3 linked regions of the Homo sapiens genome follow. The protein of the gene in region 1 interacts with the protein of each later gene in a pairwise test. Each region holds a gene or a part of one and is shown in the gene's direction. Other genes may lie near its edges.

Evidence for each region.
Region 2: the proteins of KIAA1328 (region 1) and COPB1 interact in binary tests that used the Homo sapiens proteins (3 or more experiments, as listed by UniProt).
Region 3: the proteins of KIAA1328 (region 1) and CLCNKA interact in binary tests that used the Homo sapiens proteins (3 or more experiments, as listed by UniProt).

Annotation. Positions count from the first base shown.
Region 1 is NC_000018.10:37,216,106-37,225,797, forward strand, and holds the end of KIAA1328 (protein hinderin), read left to right. Parts: intron 1-5,911; coding exon 5,912-6,122; 3' UTR 6,123-9,229; downstream 9,230-9,692. UniProt on the Homo sapiens protein: Competes with SMC1 for binding to SMC3. May affect the availability of SMC3 to engage in the formation of multimeric protein complexes.
Region 2 is NC_000011.10:14,489,812-14,498,156, reverse strand, and holds part of COPB1 (coatomer subunit beta), read left to right. Parts: intron 1-3,717; coding exon 3,718-3,947; intron 3,948-4,345; coding exon 4,346-4,515; intron 4,516-7,477; coding exon 7,478-7,592; intron 7,593-8,345. UniProt on the Homo sapiens protein: The coatomer is a cytosolic protein complex that binds to dilysine motifs and reversibly associates with Golgi non-clathrin-coated vesicles, which further mediate biosynthetic protein transport from the ER, via the Golgi up to the trans Golgi network.
Region 3 is NC_000001.11:16,030,691-16,034,550, forward strand, and holds the end of CLCNKA (chloride channel protein ClC-Ka), read left to right. Parts: intron 1-1,019; coding exon 1,020-1,153; intron 1,154-1,512; coding exon 1,513-1,601; intron 1,602-1,752; coding exon 1,753-1,836; intron 1,837-2,479; coding exon 2,480-2,566; intron 2,567-2,920; coding exon 2,921-2,968; 3' UTR 2,969-3,360; downstream 3,361-3,860. UniProt on the Homo sapiens protein: Anion-selective channel permeable to small monovalent anions with ion selectivity for chloride > bromide > nitrate > iodide. Forms a homodimeric channel where each subunit has its own ion conduction pathway.

The DNA of each region.
Region 1 (9,692 bases):
TTCATTGATTTTTTGAAGGTTTTTTGTGTCTCTATCTCCTTCAGTTGTCCTCTGATCTTAGTTGTTTCTTGCTTTCTGCTAGGTTTTGAATTTGTTTGCTCTTGCTTTTCTAGTTCTTTTAATTGTGATGTTAGGGTGTTGATTTTAGATCTTTCCTGCTTTCTCTTGTGGGCAGTTAGTGCTATAAATTTCCCTCTACACACTGCTTTAAATATGTCCCAGATATTCTGGTACGTCATGTCTTTGTTCTCGTTGGTTTCAAAGAACATCTTTCTTTCTGCCTTCATTTTGTTATTTACTCAGTAGTCATTCAGGAGCAGGTTGTTCAGTTTCCATGTAGCTGTGCAGTTTTGAGTGAGTTTCTTAACCCTGAGTTTGAATTTGATTGCACCGTGGTTGTGATTTCTGCTCTTTTACATTTGCTGAGGAGTGCTTTACTTCTAACTATGTGGTCAGTTTTGGAATAAATGTGATGCGGTGCTGAGAAGAGTGTATATTCTGTTGATTTGGGGTGGAGAGTTATGTAGACATCTGTTAGGTCCGCTTGGTGCATAGCTGAGTTAAAGTCCTGGATATCCTTGTTAACCTGCTGTCTCGTTGATCTATCTAATATTGACAGTGGGGTGTTAAAATCTCCCATTATTATTTTGTGGGAGTCTATGTCTCCTTGTACTCTCTGAGGACTTGCTTTATGAATCTGGGTGCTCCTGTATTGGGTGCATATATATTTAGGATAGTTAGCTCTTCCTGTTGAATTGATCCCTTTACCATTCTTTGATTGCCTTCTTTGTCTCTTTTTTTTTTTTTTTTTGTCTTTGTTGGTTTAAAGTCTGTTTTATCAGAGACTAGGATTGCAACCCCTGCTTTTTTTTTGTTTTTTTTTTGTTTGTTTTTTTTTTGCTTTCCATTTGCTTGGTAGATCTTCCTCCATCCCTTTATTTTGAGCCTGTGTGTGTCTCTGCACGTGAGATGAGTCTCCTGAATACAGCACACTGATGGGTCTTGATTCTTTATCCAATTTGCCAGTCTGTGTCTTTTAATTGGGGCATTTAGCCCATTTACATTTAAGGTTAATATTGTTATGTGTGAATTCAATCCTGTCATTATGATGTTAGCTGGTTATTTTGCTCGTAGTTGATGCAGTTTCCTCCTAGCATCGATGGTCTTTACAATTTGGCATGTTTTTGCGGTGGCTGGTACCGGTTGTTCCTTTCCATGTTTAGTGCTTCCTTCAGGAGCTCTTGTAAGGCAGGCCTGGTGGTGACAAAATCTCTCAGCATTTGCTTATCTATAAAGGATTTTATTTTGCCTTTACTAATGAAGCTTAGTTTGGCTGGATATGAAATTCTGGGTTGAAAATTCTTTTCTTTAAGAATGTTGAATATTGGCCCCCACTCTCTTCTGGCTTGTAGAGTTTCTGCCGAGAGATCAGCTGTTAGTCCAATGGGCTTCCCTTTGTGGGTAACCTGACCTTTCTCTCTGGCTGCCCTTAACATTTTTTGCTTCATTTCAACCTTGGTGAATCTGACAATTATGTGTCTTGGGGTTGCTCTTCTCAAGGAGTATCTTTGTGGTGTTCTCTGTATTTCCTGAATTTGAATGTTGGCCTGCCTTGCTAGATTGGGGAAATTCACCTGCATAATATCCTGAAGAGTGTTTTCCAGCTTGGTTCCATTCTCCCTGTCACTTTCAGGTACACCAATCAAACGTAGATTTGGTCTTTTCACATAGTCTCATATTTCTTGGAGGCTTTGTTCGTTTCTTTTTACTCTTTTTTCTCTAAACTTCTTGCTTCATTTCATTTGTTATAGCCACAGGAGTTAGAGAAAATGCCACACTTTGAGACAAATTAAGAGTCCTTTATTTAAGCCGGCGGCCAAAGAGATGGCTAATGCTCAAAATTCTCTTGGCCCCGATGAAGGGGCTTAACTTTTATACCTAGGTTTAGGAAGGGGAGGGGGACTTAAATGCAATAACTCTACAGAAGTAAAAACATGCAAGAATCAAAAGAAGCAAATGGTTACAGAGAAATGAACAATTTAAAAGACAAATGGTTACAAAAAGAGCAAGGGTACCAGGTGCAAGGCTCTAAATCCTTCATTATAGTTAGATATAAATGCTATGCCAGACAGGAACTCAAGGCTTTGTGTTGTTATCTCTTTGAGCAAAACCCTGGGAACTTCATACATTGTTTGCTCCAGTATCTTACCAGTTAATTGGGCTCCTTTGAAATGCTGAGGATCTGCTTACACAGGTTAACTCCTTAAGGAAGGGGGTTGGGTAAGGAGCCCTTAATGTCTTGTAAATCAAGAGGTCAAATGGAGTTTGTCCGGCTTTCCCAGCCAGGGAGAGTGTATTCATATGGGAAACATGGCTGGCAATTAAGGAGACAAAAAAAGGAAAATTTAAAGTAGTGAGCTAGAGTAAAAAACAAGGTTAGGCGTTACACATTCATTTGATCTTCAGTCACTGATACCCTTTCTTCCACTCGATGGAATCAGCTTCTGAAGCTTATGCATGCGTCACGTAGTTCTCCTGCCATGGTTTTCAGCTCCATCAGGTCATTTAAGGTCTTCTCTACACTGTTTATTCTAGTTAGCCATTCGTCTAATCTTTTTTCAAGGTTTTTAGCTTCCTTGAGATGGGTTCATACATCCTCCTTTAGCTTGGAGAATTTTGTTATTTCCAACCTTCTGAAGCCTACTTCTGTCAACTTGTCAAAGTTATTCTCTGTCCAGCTTTGTTCCATTGCTGGCGAGGAGCTGTGATCCTTTGGAGAAGAGGCACTCTGGTTTTTAGAATTGTCAGCTTTTCTGCTCTGGTTTCTCCCCATCTTTGTGGTTTTATCTACCTTTGATCTCTGATGATGGTGACCTACAGATGGGGTTTTGGTGTTGATGTCCTTTTTGTTGATGTTGATGCTATTCCTTTCTGTTTGTTAGTTTTCCTTCTAACAGTCAGGTGTCTCAGCTGCAGGTCTGTTAGAGTTTGCTGGAGGTCCACTCCAGACCCTGTTTGCCTGGGTGTCACCAGCAGATGGCTGCAGAACCGCAAATATTGCAGAACTGCAATATTGCTGCCTGATCCTTCCTCTGGAAGCTTCATCTCAAGGGGCACCCAGCTGTATGAGGTGTCAGTCGGCCCCTACTGGGAGGTGTCTCCCAGTTAGGCTACACAGGGGTCAGGGACCCACTTGAGGCAGTCTGTCCGTTCTCAGAGGTCAAACACCATGCTGGGAAAACCACTGCTCTCTTCAGAGCTGTCAGGGATGTTTAAGTCTGCAGAAGTTCCTGCTGCCTTCTGTTCAGCTCTGCCCTTCCCCCAGAGGTGGAGTCTACAGAGGCAGGCAGGCCTCGTTGACCTGCGGTGGGCTCCACCCAGTTTGAGCCTCCTGGCTGCTTTGTTTACCTACTGAAGCCTCAGCAATGGCAGATGCCCCTACCCCTGCCAGGCTGCTGTCTCGCGGGTCGATCTCAGACTGCTGCACTAACAGTGAGCAAGCCTCCGTGGGCATGGGACCTACTGAGCCAGGTGTGGTTTATAATCTTCTGGTGTGCCATTTGCTAAGACTGTTGGAAAAGCGCAGTGTTTGGGTGGCAGTGTCCCTATTTTCCAGGTACTGCCTGTCATGGCTTCCCTTGGCTAGGAAAGGGAAGTCCCCCGACCCCTTGCGCTTCCTGGGTGAGGTGATGCCCCACCTTGCTTCGGCTTGCCCTCTGTGGGCTGCACCCACTGTCCATCCAGTCCCAATGAGATGAACCAGGTACCTCAGCTGGAAATGCAGAAATCACCCATCTTCTTTGTCGATCACACTGGGAGCTGCAGACTGGTGCTGTTCCTATTCAGCCATCTTGGAACTGTATCCCCCAATTTTTTCTAATTTTTAATTTTGAGGAGGATCTTTCTGTTGATGCAACTGACAGTGGAGCTGCTAAGAGTATTTTGTAGGCTGTGCCAACATTTGCATAGATTTCTAATAAAGTATTTCCAAATATGAATTTTAGTTTATATAGAGGTGATTATTCTTGGGGATCAGATTTTCTAAAAAGATTTAACTCTTCATACACATTAGTTTCATACATGTTGGAATTTAATTTTAAATACAAATCTCTATGATGTCATTTTAATGTTTTCTCTAGCATGTTCTGTAACATATAAAGATCATATAAGAAACCAAAAATCACTTAATGATTTGTCTATAATTCACAGTGCTTGTTTATGCTTTCTATAGCAGCATCTTCAGTTACAAAGAAAAATTAAATTTAAAAATTGTATTCCTCATTAATAATTGGTTCATTAGAAATTGCATATGAGAATAGTGGGTTTTTTCCTATCAAATGCAACAATCTTTAATTTTTATTTCCAAACCTGTGGATGTTCGCTTTCCAGTGTTGTAGCAGTTTTTAAAACCAGAGATTCTAAACTCTTTGAAGGCTTCTAATATATCTCTGATATGCTTCATTGTAATGTCCACGTGTATGTTTTTATTTTCTAATAATTTACTGGCATTTATACTTAATGCTAGCAGTTCCTATCCCAGTTCTCAGGCCAGAAAGATGACATTTTTGCCACAGGGATGGGCTTGGGAAACAGACAACCCAGCCTCTCACCACTGCTGCTTCTGCCATTGTCACCACCATTAATTTGGAGCTAGGTTCTGGCCCCAGCTATCCCCTTAGGGCCCTATGTGGTACTCCAAACTGTTTTTGTTTGTTTGGTTGGTTGGTTGGTTGGTTTTTTGTTTGTTTGTTTGCTCTATTGCCCAGGCTGGAGTGCAGTGGCACGATCTCAGCTCACTGCAGCCTCCACTTTCCAGGTTCAAGCGATTCTCCTGCCTCAGCCTCCTGAGTAGCTGGGGCTACAGGCACATGCCACCATGCCCGCCTAATTTTTGTATTTTTAGTAGAGACAGAGTTTCACCATGTTGTCCAGGCTGGTCTTGAACTCCTGACCTCAAGTGATCCACCCACCTCGGCCTCCCAAAGTGCTGGGATTACAGGCATGAACCACCTCACCCGGCCCCCAGAATGTTTTTTTACCTCTAAGCTGCTCTGCACTTACCCTTTCTGAAAAGAATGCTGGACACAAGGCAGTCTTTCTTTGGAGGGATGTCTTTATAGATTTAGAATCTTTTCCCAAACTTCTAGAAAAAGTGGAAGGGGGTTAACAGGAAGGAACTAACATTTATTCAGTGCCTATTATGTATTCATTTATATCAATGAATTCATTTAATCCTAACTGGAGTTTTGCTAGCCTCTTACACATGAAAAGACTGAACTGAGACACTGAATAACTTCCCCAATATTACACAGCTTGCAAATGGTAGAACAGAGATTTGAACCAAGCGTGTCTGTCTGTGAAGATTTCGACAGACAGCTTTAGTGTCCTGGATGAGAGTGCTGGAGACAAACCACCTGGGTTCAATTCTAGACTCTGCTGTGTAATTGCTTTCTGTTAGATGAGTTACTTCCCTGAGCTTTAATTTCCGCATGTTTATAATGGAGATGAGAGTAGTATAGTACCTACTTCCTAGGGTTCATTAGAGGATTATAGGAAGGTTAAATATTTGTAGTGTTAGGAACAGTGCCTGACAGTAAGCCTGCAGTAAATGTCACTGTTAATATCATTACTGTTATCATGATTACTCTTCCCACTCTACAATCTCTCTTCATAAGTTATAAAGGAATGTTAGGGGTCAGCAAAAGAGAAGAGCTTATGTACAGGCAGCAGGGCCTAGGTTCTTCAAGTCCTTCTGGTGTTTACCTTCACAAAAATTCCCTTAAGCATCATCTTATGCATGATGTGATCTGTAATCTAATTCTTGCCCTGGACAGCCCATTTCTGCTGGGCTTCTTGAATTCTCATTTTCTAATAATCTGATCCTTTCCTGTCTGGGTTATATGTCTTACAGGTATGAGACATCTTTGTTGGATTTGGTTCAGTCTCTGAGCCCAAACTCTGCGCCCAAACCTCAGCGCTATCCCTCCAGAGAAGCTGGGGCCTGGAATCATGGTACTTTCCGACTCAGTCCTCTAAAATCAACCCGGAAGAAGATGGGGATGCACAGAACCCCTGAAGAGTTGGAGGAGAATCAGATTCTGGAAGATATATTTTTCATTTGACATATTGCAAAATTTTCTTAGGAAATTTGTGGGTTTCCTCACATACTGATCTAGGATTTTAAATTATTTCATTGCAAAGTAATTGTGTCTCTCCTTTCACGGGGACTTGTCTCACTAGCATCCTGTTACGTATTGAATATAGAAATCATTCTAACAACCCAGGTTATTTTCAATCAGACCAGGCATTCGATAACACACTAAGGGGGTAGGAATGGAAGATGGTATCTTTTATATGCTAAACAGATTAGAAAATTAACATAGGATACTTTCTGCGTGGTGGAAACCATTGCATATTCAGCCTCATTTCAAGAGTGTTTCCTTCTCAAACTTCTGCTAGAAAATGCTGACTCACTTTTATATACAAGAAAAACCTTTCCACTGAAAAATCCCTCTGATTTAAAAGTAACCCCTTTGAAACATAAGCAGTTTCAGAAAGGCAGACTCTCTCATCTTTCTCATCCTGTTCTCTCACTACTACATTTCTGTAAGTGGTCCTTTAATTCTGAAGTTGGAGTTGGTGCCCCTGCCATCACAAACAACACGAGAGCCAATTGTGAGTCAGTCTCAGTAGCCATCAGCCTGGCAGCTGCCCATCCCATAACCAAAGAGCTCAATGGGCTGGAGGGTGAGACCCAGCCAATCCTTGGGAGCAAGCAGCACTAAATCACATCAGGGAGTGATTAGTCCTGGGGAAATTCAGTGGAGGCACAAGCCTGAAGCACTCTTCTACCAATGTTTGGGTGACCACCCCTCCAATATCCCAGAATGAATAAGAACAATCCCTAGGTATTTTTATTTACCCAAGTGTTCAGCTTATTCACCCCACCCCCCCACCCCCCATCACACGTGCTCCTGTGAACTTTCCATGGTTATGTCTACGGAAAATGCCACTAGAGAGAGAGTGATGCAAGCTGCTGCAAAGCTGATGGGCTTCCTCTGGCCCTCCCTTTTCCTCCACGAGGATTAAAGGATACAAGCTGACCAGGCCTCACAGGTGCTCTGCTCGTGGCCCCAAAGAACCATCTCTACTTGCCAGAGTATGTTCCACCACCCAAGCAGGGTCTCCCTACTTTTTCTCACTGGCCTCGTTTTGACCCAGAGAAAGCCTATGGAAGTTATGCAGTGCAGACCTCATCCTGTCTGCTGTCTTTTCTCCCACAGAGCTCTTGAGATGGGTCCTTCAGCTTGCAGTGGTCCCTAGTAGCCTCTCAAGCTAATGGGGATGATGATCCTGGTTTAGCCAGAGTTCAAAACTCTCCAGTCATTGAAAGCAAGGGGAGGGTGTGTTCCCAGATGTGTATTACTTGGGAATTTTATTTGATCTGGAGGGTGTGGCTTTTTTTCTCTCCTTTTTACCAACCCCAACTAAACTGGGAGTAAGACTTAGTCAGTGTTGGTAGACAAAGTCATACCACCCAGGGCAGCCTGCATGCAGCGAGTCTGCGTGGCTTCCCTGAATTACTCTTTTAATTAAAACTAGATTATTTCAATCTAGAAAAGCCTTGTTGAGCAGCCTCCTTATCCAGATAGATCCAAAGCTCATGTCTCTTCAGGCTGAGACTGGCGCTGTCACCTCCACCCAGCCTTCTTTCACTTGGGGTTTTTTATTCTTTGGAGTAGAAAAGAATGGAGCCCACTAATATTATATTTTTCTTCTGAAATAAATATAAAGTCAAGACTAACTAGTTATAATCATTCCCTTAAAAAGTTGGAAAATCATTACAGATTAAAATTTCTTTATAAAGTTCACCTCTGAGAGTAACCAAATCGGTTTCATCCCATATCAAAAAGCCTTTGGAGTGTGGAGCTTTCTGTGGTATGGCAGAAATGGGTGGATGGCAAACTAAGAGCCCTCAGCCATTTTTTCAGTTAAAGTTAGGTTGCCAGAACTTTCTTTTCCTTGCCCCCTGTGTCATGACTAGCTTAAGTGTACTTGACTCCCATAGACTACTCCCATGCCCACAGTCACCCATTCCAGACTCCAGTGTCCTTAAAACTCTGGAGTGAGAGGATGCCAGAGGATCAAGAAAAGGATCACAGTTTCTTGAAGAAGCTTGTTTGCCTTTAGAAGAATCGTAAACAGAGTCTAAACTAAAGGCTTTTTGGGGGTCACAGCCACAGAGTGGAGTTTTATTGCTTCTTTGCCTCTCCATGAATGGCCAATTTGGAAAAGCAGAGATGGGCTTTCAGCAGAATATCAACCAATACATTTTTCACATGCAAAACTCATCACCAGTTGCCTTTTTCTAACTTAATGGACATTTTGTTGGTGTTGGTGCAAGGGCAATAGGATGTAAATTTGTATATAATCTAATGTCTTCATTATTAATTGAATAGTACATGTTAACATTTTAATCTATTTAAATTTACTTTGAAATATATACATACATATGAATGAAAGGTTGTTACAGAGCCTCAAAGCTGTTGCAGACTATCCCAAGAGAAAGGATCTGGCACAAAGGAATCTGCCTTTCCTCCGTCTCAAGTCTCCCACCCTTGACTGGTTGGGATTTGCTCGTCCAGCCTCTAGACACTTCCCAAAGCAAGACTGGACACATGCCGAGGGCGTTGCGGATAGTGCCTCACCATTGCCCACCCTGCTGCCCAACTCCTGTGAGAGAAAAACCAATCAATGTTTACAAAATGGAAAAGGACACAGCATGTCCTTTGAACTCCCTAAGTAAGGCCCACAGTTCTTGATGCAGAGAACCAAAGTGAATCATAGAAAAGCTTTTGCTAACAGTCCGCTTTCCAGGAGGCAAACTTGTGTTTATCCAAACCTGATCCCCATGATGGGGACTTTTCTAGAGCACCCCAAATGTCATGGGGAGAGAGGGACTCTTTCTGCTCCCTCAGAGCTACTCTTCACTTGTCCCTGCTTCCGGCACCAAGTTCATAATAGAGATCTTCTGGCCAGAGAATCAGGGGAGAGGAGAGGCCTGATGGGGCAGAGCTGGACGAAGTCTGCTAAGAGAGATGGAGGCTGTGGCGGACTCCTTCCAACTCACGATTTATCCTCAGCTCAGAGTGTATTTTGAATATGAGCAAATGTTTATGTACGTATGAGATTTCAAGTTAATAAATCATCTCTATGGCTATTTTCCCCATGTGGGTTTGATATTGAATTGTCCCTTGAACATCCCTCATCAGATCAGTGAGGCATAGCTTGAAAGCAAGTGCAGACCTGCAGGTTATCAAAATGTTATTTTCCTCAGTACTTGTTAAAACAGCAGGAGCCTGTCGTTGACTGAGAGAAAGGAAATGGTTTGTCACATCCCAGTAGGTTTTTCTGCTGTGGCTCCTGCTCACTCACATCACGTGAACACCAAGCCGCCTCTAGATTTTGTGCTTGTTGGAACAGAACATTCAGTCTCTCTGCACCTGTAAGTCCCTTCTCTGTGCCTACCCCCATAGCTGCTCAGCAAGGAAGAAGTATCACAGCACTTTAAGACAAGAAAAATGGCCCTGCCTAGTTGCCTTTAGTTGCTGGAAGAATGTATGTGAGGGCTTCAGTGTCTAAAGTGCTCAATTCTGAGATCACACCTGTGGATTCAACTCAGACAGAGACCC
Region 2 (8,345 bases), on another chromosome or scaffold:
TTTAAATGTCCAATTAAATTATTATTGACTGTAGTTACCCTGTGTGCTATCAAATATCGGGTCTAACTCATTTTTTCTGTACCCATTAACCATCTCCACTTCCCTACCACTACCCTTCCCACCTCTGATAACCATCCTTTTACTCTGTCTCCGTGAGTTTGTTTTGATTTTTAGCTTCCACAAATAAGTGAGAACATGTGAAGTTTGTCTTTCTATGCCTGACTTATTTCATGTAACATAATGACCTCCAGTTCCATCCATATTTTTGCAAATGACAAGATCTCATTCTTTTTTTATGGCTGAATAGTACTCCATTGTGTATATGTACCACATTTTCTTTATACATTTATCTGTTGGTGGACACTTAGGTTGCTTTCAAGTTTTGACTGTTGTAAACAGTGCTGCAACAAACATAGGAGTCCAGATATCTCTTTGATGTACTCATTTCCTTTCTTTTGGATATATACCCAGTAGTCGGATTGCTGAATCGTATGGTACCCCTGTTTTTAGTTTTTTGAGGACCCTCCAAACTGTTCTCCATAGTGGGTATACTAGTTTACATTCCCACCAACAGTGTACGAGGGTTCCCTTTTCTCCACATCCTCTCCAGCATTTGTTTTTGCTTGTCTTTTGGATAAAAGCCATTTTAACTGGGGTGAGATGATATCTCATTGTAGTTTTGATATGCATTTCTCTGATGATCAGTGATGTTGAGCACCTTTTCATATGCCTGTTTGCCAATTGTATGTCTTTGTGAAATGTCTGTTCAAATCTTTTGCCCATTTTTAAATCAGATTATGAGTTTTTTTTTTTCCTGTAGAGTTGTTTGAGCTCCTTACATATCTGGTTATTAATCCCTTGTGAGATAGGTAGTTAGCACATATTTTCTCCCATTCTGTGGGTTGTCTCATCACGTATGTCGATTGTTTCCTTTGCTGTGCGGAAGCTTTTTAACTTGATGTGATCCCATTTGTCCGTTTTTGCTTTGGTTGCCTGTGCCTGTGGGGTATTATTCAAGAAATTTTTGGCCAGACCAGCGTCCTGGAGATTTTTCCCAATATTTTCTTGTAGTAGTTTCATAGTTTAAAGTCTTAGATTTAAGCCTTTAATCCATTTTGATTTTATTTTTGTGTAAGTTGAGAGATGGGGGACAAGTTTCATTCTTCTGCACATAGTTTTCCAAGCACCATTTATTGAAGGGACTGTCTTTTCTCCAATGTATGTTCTTGGCACCTTTGTCAAAATGAGTTCACTGTAGGTGTATGGATTTGTTTCTTGGTTCTGTTATTTTCCATGGGTCTTTATGTCTGTTTTTATGCCAGTACCATGCTGTTTTGGTTACTGTAGCTATGTAGGATAATTTGATGTCAAGTAATGTGATTCCTTCAGTTTTGTTCTTTTTGCTTAGGATAGCTTTGGCTATTCTGGGTCTTTTGTGGTTCCATATAAATTTTAGGATTTTTTTTTTTTTTCTGTGAAGAATGTCATTGGTATTTTGATGGGAATTGCATTGACTCTAGATTGCTTTGGGTGGTATGGACATTTTAACAATACTGATTCTTCTAATCCATGATCATGGAATATCTTTCCATTTGTTGATGTTCTCTTCAATTTCTTTCATCAGTATTTATAGTTTTCATTGTAGAAATCTTTCATTTATTTGGTTAAATTAATTCCTAGGTATCTAATTTTATCTGTGGGTATTGTAAATGGGATTAGATTACTTCTTCAATTTCTTTTTCAGATTGTTCACTGTTGTCATATAGAAATGCTACTGATTTTTGTATGTTGATTTTGTGTCCTGGAACTTTACTAAATTTATCATATTTCTGAATTTTAAAAATGTATACCGTGTCTCCTTTTTGTGAGTGATTCTGTCAAGAAAAAAAAAATTTATAATTAATATGCTTTCCAAAGTAATGATTCTTGTTTAATTGAACTGCTAAAAATAAATACAACTTAAACTGATAAATATTGTTTAAACAGAGCAGAGTGAAAATTATGCTTCAAATATAGAAAGGATCTTTTAGAAGATAGTTTGCAGTTTGAAAAGAAACTTAATATTTTACTTGCCTATTCCCACTTCTTAATCAGCAGTAATGGAATACCTCCTGATTCTAGGTTACTTAATACTAGGTTTCTATTGAGGTCTATTTTTAGAGAAGGGAAAAGAAACCCAGTTTTATGATATTTAAAATGATACCATTATATACATAAGCCACATATATTTCCCTTTTTTCATGTTCATGTAGGATAGTTGAATGCAAAATAGTGAATACATTCATTAGTGTTTTTCCTCATAATTTAAAAATTTTCATTGTTAGATCCTCAGGATACCTAAGGTTATAGCTAGGAAGGTAAAGAATAAAATCTGCCCTTAGTTGGAACAATGCCCTAGTCTTAATTGAAGCTGCCTTAGCTACCTTCCTCCAACCAATAAATAAATACATACTCTCCAGTTTAATGTATATTTTTGCCATTAAGAAGAGTTGAGACTGGGCATGGTGGCTCATGCCTGTAATCCCAGCACTTTGGGAAGCTGAGGCAGGTGGATCACTTGACTTCAGGAGTTCGAGACCAGCGTGGCCAACATGGCGAAACCCCATCTCTAGTAAAAATACAAAAATTTTAAGTGGCTATTAAATGAAGAGTTCTGTGGGCCAGATGAACCACCGCATCTGACGCTCAGAACTCTGTTTCATAGCCGCTTAGCTCTAATCATTAGAAATGTATTTCTCATATTTAGGCCCAAATCTGGTTCCCGGTAACTACTACCCATTAGTTGTAGTTCTTTTCCTCATAATGGCCCTAAGGTTATTGAAGACTTGTAATCATTCTTTGTTCTCCCCTTCCCAAGATAATTCATTTATTTTGATGATCTAAACAGTTGTAGTACAGTGTGCTACTACATACTTCTCTGCCTTTGAGTTTTGGATCCAGAAGATTTTTAGTACTATAAATTCTTCAGTATGCAATGATAATGGTGTGAAATTTTAGATAGTTTTGCGTAAAATACTTTATGTTGCAGAGTTTTTAGGCTAAATAACAGTAAACTAGCATTTTATCTTTAATGTGTCATCCTTAATTCTAAATAATGACTACTAATCTAGAACATTTGAATTACCTCCCAGTTTTCCAGATGATATCTTAAGAAAGATTCTAAAGTTTTACAGCCTGCCTGCAGAACTATGATGAGATTTTAGAAATAATCCACTACTTTAGTTTTCAGCCTTTTTGAGTATGACGTTTCTCTTTCTAATGTTAAAAAAGTTACATATTTATCCTCCCATAATAGTAGTTTTAACTTTGTTAAAATGCACACAAATAGCTAAAAGCTGTTTTGAATTCAAAATCAATTAATAGTATGTATTTACATTTTGAAAAATAGCTATATGTGTTTTGAAACACGTTTACTTGGTATGACTGTAGATTCATGGAGCCTGCATTAACTCAATTGGTTAGGAACCAGAAATCTAATCCAGCGCCTTCATATTATATATAAAGAGTCTGATTTCCAGAGATAAATGACTTGAGCAAAGACAGATTATTTGGTGGAGAACCAGGTGGAGAACCTTGTCACTTGGGTTTGTACTTTTATTACCATTGCTGATACTGAAGTAAGAAGGTACATTTTATTTTGTTAATTGCTTTTAAATTTATGTGATGAATTTTCTTTTGAAATAATTGTGCTTTTTTTTAAAAAAATTTTTGATTCAGAAAAAGGAGATGTAAAGTCAAAGACTGAAGCTTTGAAGAAAGTAATCATTATGATTCTGAATGGTGAAAAACTTCCTGGACTTCTGATGACCATCATTCGTTTTGTGCTACCTCTTCAGGATCACACTATCAAGAAATTACTTCTGGTATTTTGGGAAATTGTTCCTAAAACAACTCCAGATGGGAGACTTTTACATGAGATGATCCTTGTATGTGATGCATACAGAAAGGTAAACCAAATCATAATTATTTCTGAATATTGCTTTGAATTTAAATGTAAAATTGGTAGAATGGGCTGTGTTTTAATTGTTAAAATTGAGTCTTTGATAAGATGTAAGTTGTAGAGATTTGGAATTGTAAAAGAGTTATTTTTAAAAGTTTTATTGTCACTTTTCAGACATTTTCTATGCATTTTATGTGTATATATTAATTAAAAAACAGTGACACACATATAAGACATTGATGAGATAGGTAAAAATTGCTTCAGTCAACAAGAATATGATGGAAATTGTCGGTAATCTAGGTTTTTTCTCAAACGTATTTTTTTTCCATTGGAAAGTTTTGCATTAAAATTTTCTTTTTGTAAAAAGCTGAAACTCAGCATTTCATATTTTAATTTTTATATCAGGATCTTCAACATCCTAATGAATTTATTCGAGGATCTACTCTTCGTTTTCTTTGCAAATTGAAAGAAGCAGAATTGCTAGAACCTTTAATGCCAGCTATTCGTGCATGTTTGGAGCATCGACACAGCTATGTTAGAAGAAATGCTGTTTTGGCCATCTATACCATCTATAGGTAAATAAAGATACTGCTTTGGCTTCATTCTGTGAGTACTGTTTAGTCTTTTAGACTAGTGGTTCCAAAGTGGTTGCTTGCAGACTGAATATAGCTTGAAGATATATTTTGTATGGCCAGCACTGTATTTTTTATTATGAACATTGAAAAGTCAAAAGATCTGGCAGCGCTGTTCCTAGCTTCCACAAGACAACATTCTGCTGAACTTGTATAACAGTAACCCCCTTTAAATAAGTTATATACTTTACAGTTTATGACAGTGCTTGTCATTCTCAACCGTATTACTCCAAGCCACTTTATATGTTCACTTGCTTAGCCTCTATAGGCTTTTAACTTTGGTCCTTGTTTTAGAATTCGTTTTGTGGAATGTCGGTCTTTTTACTGTCAGAAGCTTTGAGGAAGGAACTTTTTAAATGAGAAGGGCTACAGTTATAACTGAGTCCAATTCTTAGAAAGCTGAAGATTTTGAATTTTTATTTGTTTTTGTTTTGTTTTGAGATGGAGTTCCACTCTCGTTGCCCAGGCTGGAGCACAGTGGCGCGATCTCGGCTCACAACAACCTCCACCTCCCGGATTCAAGTGATTCTCCTGCCTCAGCCTCCCAAGTAGCTGGGATTACAGGCACCCACCACCACGCCCAGCCAATTTTTGTATTTTTAGTAGATATGGGGTTTCACCATGTTGGCCAGGCTGGTCTCGAACTCCTGACCTCAAGTGTTCCACTCGCCTTGGCCTCCCAAAGTGCTGGGATTGTAGGTGCAGGCTGCCACGCCCGGCTGAGATTTTGGATTTTTAAACCAATTTAAGGAACCAGTTAGATGAAGCTAGAATGCTCAGTTTTTACAGTCACAGGTATCAATTTATTAAGGACTACAATGTAATTTTTATAAGCATCTTTGTACTTTAGTAGATTTGTTGGTTAAGATATAATTTCATAGTTATCTTACTGTTAGATTTTATCCATTAAGGAAAGTGGTATTCTGGTTAATAATGTAGATGAGCCAGGCGTGGTGGCTCATGCCTGTAATCCCAGCACTTTGGGAGGCCGAGGCGGGCCGATAACCTGAGGTCGGGAGTTCGAGACCAGCCTGACCAACATGGAGAAACCCCGTCTCTACTAAAAATACAAAATTAGCTGGGCGTGGTGGCACATGCCTGTAGTCCTAGCTACTCAGGAGGCTGAAGCAGAAGAATTGCTCGAACCTGGGAGGCAGAGGTTGCGATGAACCGAGATCGCGCTATTGCACTCTAGCCTGGGCAACAAAACCAAAACTCCATCTCAAAAAATAATAATAAAAATAATAATAATAATAATAATGTAGGGTGAGTTCCTTTAATGTTACCATACAGACTACACAAATTTCAGAATTTAAACTATAGTGCACATAGAAAAATTAGGCCATTTATAGGACAATTGGAAATGTGAACACTATGTCTTGATATTAGGAAATTATTAATTTTGTGAGGTGTGATGATGAATAATTAGTTTTGCAAGTAAAGAGTCCTTGATTTTAGAGAAACCTACCAATATATTTACAGAAGAAAGGATACATTGCCTGTGATTTGCTTCAAAATAATATGGCAAGAGGTAAATTTGGCAAGGATATAGATGAAACAAAACTAGCTATGAATTATAATTGTTGAAGCAAGGTGATGGATTTTATTAAGCTAGTGTTCACTCTTCTCTGTACTAATATTTCTAAATTTCCAAAAGAAGAGGCAAGTCAGTAAGCAAATAGTACACAACTAATAAAATTCAAGGGACTATGTTTTTCCTCTTAATGTAATTCTTAATATATTGATATGCTTAAAATGTATGCACAACAGTTATTAGAGACATTGGTTAACAGATGGTGTGTTGAATAAATCAGCTTTTTCTGTATTGAACTAGAAAACGTATAATTTGATAATTTAATAGATGAAGGTATAACTTTGTGTTTCCTTCTACCAGTTCCTTTTTTTTTTTTTTTTTGAGACAGAGTTTCACTCTTGTCGCCCAGGCTCGAGTGCAATGGCACGATCTCAGCTTACTGCAGCCTCCACCTCCCAGGTTCAAGCAATTCTCCTGCCTCAGCCTCCCAAGTAGCTAGGATTACAGGCATGCGCTACCACGCCTGGCTAATTTTGTATTTTTAGTAGAGATGGAGTTTCTCCATGTTGGTCAGGCTCATCTCAAACTCCCACCCTCAGGTGATCCGCCCACCTGGGCCTCTCAAAGTGCTGGGATTACAGGTGTGAGCCACTGCGCCCGGCTCCTTCTCCCAGTTCTAATTGATTTGAAGTTTCAAAAAGCAGGCCGGGCGTGGTGGTTCATGTCTGTAATCCCAGCACTTTGGGAAGCCGAGGTGGGTGGATCACTCGAGGTCAGGAATATGAGACAAGCCTGGCCAACGTGGCAAAATGCTGTCTCTACTAAAAAAATAACAAAAATTAGCCTGGCATGGTGGCACGTGCCTGTAGTCCCAGATACTCAGGAGGCTGAGGCAGGAGAATCACTCGACCTAGAAGGCGGAGGTTGCAGTAAGCCGAGATCACTCCACTGCACTCTAGCCTTGTCTGGGCACGGTGGCTCACACCTGTAATCCCAGCACTTTGGAGGCCAAGGTGGGCAAATCATGAGGTCAGGAGTTCAAGACCAGCCTGGCCAACATGGTGAAACCCCATCCCTACTAAAAATACAAAAAATTAGCTGGGCATAGTGGTGGGCACCTATAATCGCAGCTACTCGGGAGGCTGAGGCAGGAGAATTGCTTGAACCCTGGAAGTGGAGGCAGCAGTGAGCTGAGATCGCACCACTGCACTCCAGCCCAGGCAACAGAGTGAGACTCTGTCTCCAAAAAAAAAAAAAAGCAAAAGTATGTTGTAAAGTTTGATTAAATTTAATTTTGGTATTGTCCAGAGAGTTACTAAAATAGTAAAGTAGGCTTTTATTAAATATGGATGTTACCTGTTTTATTTAAAGAAATTTTGAACATCTTATACCTGATGCTCCTGAACTGATACATGATTTTCTGGTGAATGAGAAGGATGCAAGTTGCAAAAGGAATGCATTTATGATGCTAATTCATGCAGATCAGGTGAGGTACTTTTTAAAAAATACTCTTATTACTGTATTTAAGTGACAATTGAAAGTATTACATAGACTTAATCATGTTTTTAGTCAGTAATTTTGTTTATAGTTCATGTGGTTTGTGTATTTTGAAATTTTTAAGCTTGTAGAAAAATACATTTTTTTCTTAACCCTTCTCTAAAATATTGCATATGTATACATTCTTTTTTCAATTAAACATTGAAGAGGCATTTTAGAGCAGCCACCCTACAGTTTTTAAAAATTAAAATTATTATGACTGTTCTTTCCTATGATGGTATAGATCTAAAATTGTTTAGTAGAGAAAAATAGTAGCTTTGCATAGATACATCCTTAGCCATGCCTGTGGAAATAGGGTGGCCTTCAGTGTAGAGGTGTATCCTTTTAGGTTCTTCAACTTTCATACACGGGTGCCAACTCCACATCCTGCTCTGCTGGTGGTTAAAGTACATGGATCTACTTTTGGTTAGCAATTACTCTGTACACCTTGATGCCATCTAATCTTGAAATTTTCTAGCCAGTATTTATCACCAAAATATGGGAAATAATATGCATGAAGTCTGAAAAATATGGAGGCCTTCCAGTCCTCTGAAATCTAGACACTGTGACTTTTTTCCCCCAGATCTTCCTTTAATGGATTGTCCCCCAGTTATTTAAAATTGTGGTAACATACACATAACAAAAAAATTTACCCTCTTAACCATTTTTAAGTGTTCAATGATTTTAAATACATTTATAATGT
Region 3 (3,860 bases), on another chromosome or scaffold:
TCAGGCTGACTGAAGGGGGTCACAGTGTTTGGGCTTGGCTGGGGGTGGAGGGCACCTCCAAAAAGAAACACCACCGCAGCTGACCTCCGACATGGGGGCTGGGAGGGGCTGACACACAGCTGTGCTCTCATCTCCACTCTCCCCAGTGCCCTGGGTGACCTTGGGCAAGTCCTTGGCCTTGAGGCCTCAGTGTCTGTCTAGGGGTCAGCTGGGCTTCACAGCAGGAGGATGAGTATTGCCCCGTGTACAGATTGAGGAAACCAGAGCTCAGAGAGGTGCCGTGTCTTGCTCCAGGTGACACAGAGAGTCAGCACCAGATCCGAGAGGTCTCCTCCCCTCTCCCCACTCCTGCTGTCCTTGCTGGGACTTTGGGAGCAGGAGGTGGAACGAGAATGGAAATGGGCTTTGAAGTCCTCACTCAACCAGATAGGACCAGAGCAGCTTCTGGCGCCAGAAAAGCAGACCAAAGAGGCTCTGAGAGTCCGAATCGGAGGCCCCGCTCCAAACACAAACAAGCTGCTGCCTTGCTCTGAACCTGTTTCCCCATCGGGAAAATGGGGCTGTTTATACCAGTGATTTTCAACCTTCCAAGTTTTTCCTTGGGGGTGACATACACTTTTATAATCAAATGGAATTATCCAGGGAAGGCTGCTGGGTCTGTACTCCAATCTCATTATTCATTAATGGATGGCCAGTCACTGACCACCTGGCAGATACTGGTTTTCCGTCATCTCACACTCAGCTCTGTCCAAGGTGGGACAAGACCCAAGTGAAGCTGGTCTGGGGGACATGGGGGACCAGGGGGTTGGGGATTTGGAACTGGGCCATCAGTAATGTGGTCCCCAGGTTTCCTCCCACTGTGGGTTCTAGGAGTCCCTCATTCCAGGAACCTCTCCAGCCCTGCTCACACTCCAGAGCCGTGGGTCCCTGGTTCAAGCAAAGCTCCCCTCAGATCCCCTTGCTGGCCTGGGTCTGACATCCCCGACTCCGGGACCTGATGGGAGCCCCTCTGCCTGCAGCTCCCACCATGTGAGGGTGGAGCACTTCATGAACCACAGCATCACCACACTGGCCAAGGACACGCCGCTGGAGGAGGTGGTCAAGGTTGTGACCTCCACAGACGTGACCGAGTATCCCCTGGTGGAGAGCACAGGTGCCCAGCTGGAAGGGAGGAGGAAGTCGGGGGTAGGGGATGCCCTCTGCCTCCTTCTTGAACCTGTCAGGCAGACAGGATCTGCATCCAGGCTCTGTGACTTAGCAACCAACCGTGTGACCTTGAGCAAGTCACTTCACCTGAGCCTCAGTTTCCTCATCAGCAAAATGGAAATCATGGCTACCCTCCCTTGGGGTGGTTGACATGTCTAAAGAGAGTCGGCTGGGTGCTTGTAAGGCAGTCCCTGGGCAGCTGCTGGGGTAGGAGCATGGGGACACCACCAAGGTCTTCCGGAAGCTTGGCCCTCAGGCCTGTTTCTTCATAATGCACCTCCCTCCCTCTCCCTCTCTACTTGCCAGAGTCCCAGATCCTGGTAGGCATCGTGCAGAGGGCCCAGCTGGTGCAGGCCCTCCAGGCTGAGCCTCCTTCCAGGGCTCCAGGACACCAGGTGGTTACTCCTGAGGGGCGTGGGGATGGGGCGGGGGTGGGTCAGCAGGGATGGGAGGGGAGGGACCCGCTGATCTCCTGAGGGAGAGGTGGTCTGAGAGAGGCATCCTGGGGAGGCCGGCCCTGCACCCATAACTCTTCCCCACTCCCAGCAGTGTCTCCAGGACATCTTGGCCAGGGGCTGCCCCACGGAACCAGTGACCCTGACGCTATTCTCAGAGACCACCTTGCACCAGGTAACAAGTATTGGGGAGTGTGACACACGCAGCCCCCGGGGCAGGGCAAGAGCTGATGAGGAGCTCAGGCTCCAGCCTCCCGTCCCAACCCCGCCCCGCCCATCTTATCCTGCTTCCTGCTCCTCCTGGGCCTGGACAGGGCAGCTCCTGCCGTCGCCCCTCACTGCCAGGGTTGCGGGGATGATGCAGAGAGATGAGGGAATTGGGGGGCTTGGCAAATGGAAGTCTCTGGGTGGAGAAAGACAGTGGAGTTGCACCAAGGCACACGTGCGTTTCAATTTCAGGTCCACCCCATTTTGCCTGTGTGATCTTGGACAAATTATGTAGCCAGTTGAGACAGAGCCTGACACAAGGATGGGGCAAGGGCGGAGGCTGACAGGGGACCTGGAGATGGCCCCGCCCCCTCTGTGCTGCTGGAGGGTGCTGGATGTTGGGTCCTGTCCACTTGCAGCCCCGCCCAGACCCTTGAGTGGCCTCTGGCATCCCCCAGTGGCCCACACTGGACATTGCAGGCCTGGGTCTGTTGCCTCCCACACATATCAGGCCCCGCCCCTCTTCCTGGCTCAGAGGCGTGGCAGAGTGGGCCAGAGGGTGGGCTGGGCGCCATCTACCCTCCAGTGTTTCCTAACAATCCCCCATCCAGGCACAAAACCTCTTTAAGCTGTTGAACCTTCAGTCCCTCTTCGTGACATCGCGGGGCAGAGCTGTGGGCTGCGTGTCCTGGGTGGAGGTACCAGGGTCCCGGGGGCAGAGCAAAGCAGGGGACCCATGCCTGAGAAGGCTGGGGAGATGGGGAGGTGGGGGGACACCAGCATGCTCCCATCCAAACCTGGGGGGATTCAGAGGATACTTATGAGTCCCTCTTTCTGGCCCAGATTGGCCACTGGGCCTGGCTCCCCTACCTTGTTTTCTGGCCAGTGGCCAGCCTGCCCTTCTCGGCCTCAGTGATCCCATCTGTGCAATGGGGTGGCACAGGCTCTACTATTCAGCCTGGAAATGAACCTTAGGGGACTAAAAATGCTGGAGCCCCCCTCACAACCTCCTCTACATCCCCCCCCACCTCCACCCCCTTTCTCTGTTCTAGATGAAGAAAGCAATTTCCAACCTGACAAATCCGCCAGCTCCAAAGTGAGCCGGCCCAGCAAGATGAAACAGGGCACCCCAGCTGACCTGGTACTGAGGTTGGGCTGAGACCCTGCTTCTCTTCCCCCATCACCACCTGCCCCTCCCTCCAGCCCAGCTCCATTCTTTGGCATAACAGGCAACTCTAACCTAGCCCAGAAGAGGATGGCTCATCCTGGGTGGGACGATGGCTCCTGCCTTGAAAGACAAAAATCCCACCTTGGGCAGAGCTGAGTGTGAGAAGATGGAAAACCAGTATCTGCCAGGTGCTCAGTGACTGGCCATCACATTAATGAATGACGAGATTGGAGTACACTGTCACCAAGGGCAGGCAAAGATGCCCTCTGGGGTTGTCTGGTTCCCAGTGAGAGGCTCCTGAGAAAAATAAAGCTGGTTCCCAGAGCTGCTGTCCATCCCTCATCTCAGCTGCAAGGTTGCTGGTCTGGGACTGGAGCTCCTTACCTGCGCTGGCCCAGAGTGAGTTTCCCGTGGTCACGTGGGCACTGCAGGCTCGGGCCCCTGGGCTCCTCCTCATGCTCCATTTCTTGGCAGGGAGATGATAGGGAGAGAGGTTCTCCCACCAGGTCTATGATGCTTGTCCTCATGAATAAGTGGGATACTGTGTCACTCAAACCCTAGTCTCCTGCTTGGCTGGGCCACAGCTCATAAAGCCAGGACCGAAGTGTGGCTCCTTCTGGAGTCCACAGAGCCCTGGGCATCCTCCATGAGCCTTCTATGCCTGGGTGGCCCAGGTTGACCGGCTGTGTATGTGTTGGGGTTAAGGATCCCCCCTGACTCCCTCCGGACTCTGTCCAGGGGCCCAAGGTCACATCTTCCCCAGCAGAGACCAGGCCAAGGTCATCCAGGGTGAATCCACCACTTTAATGTCCTCAAAGAAACTT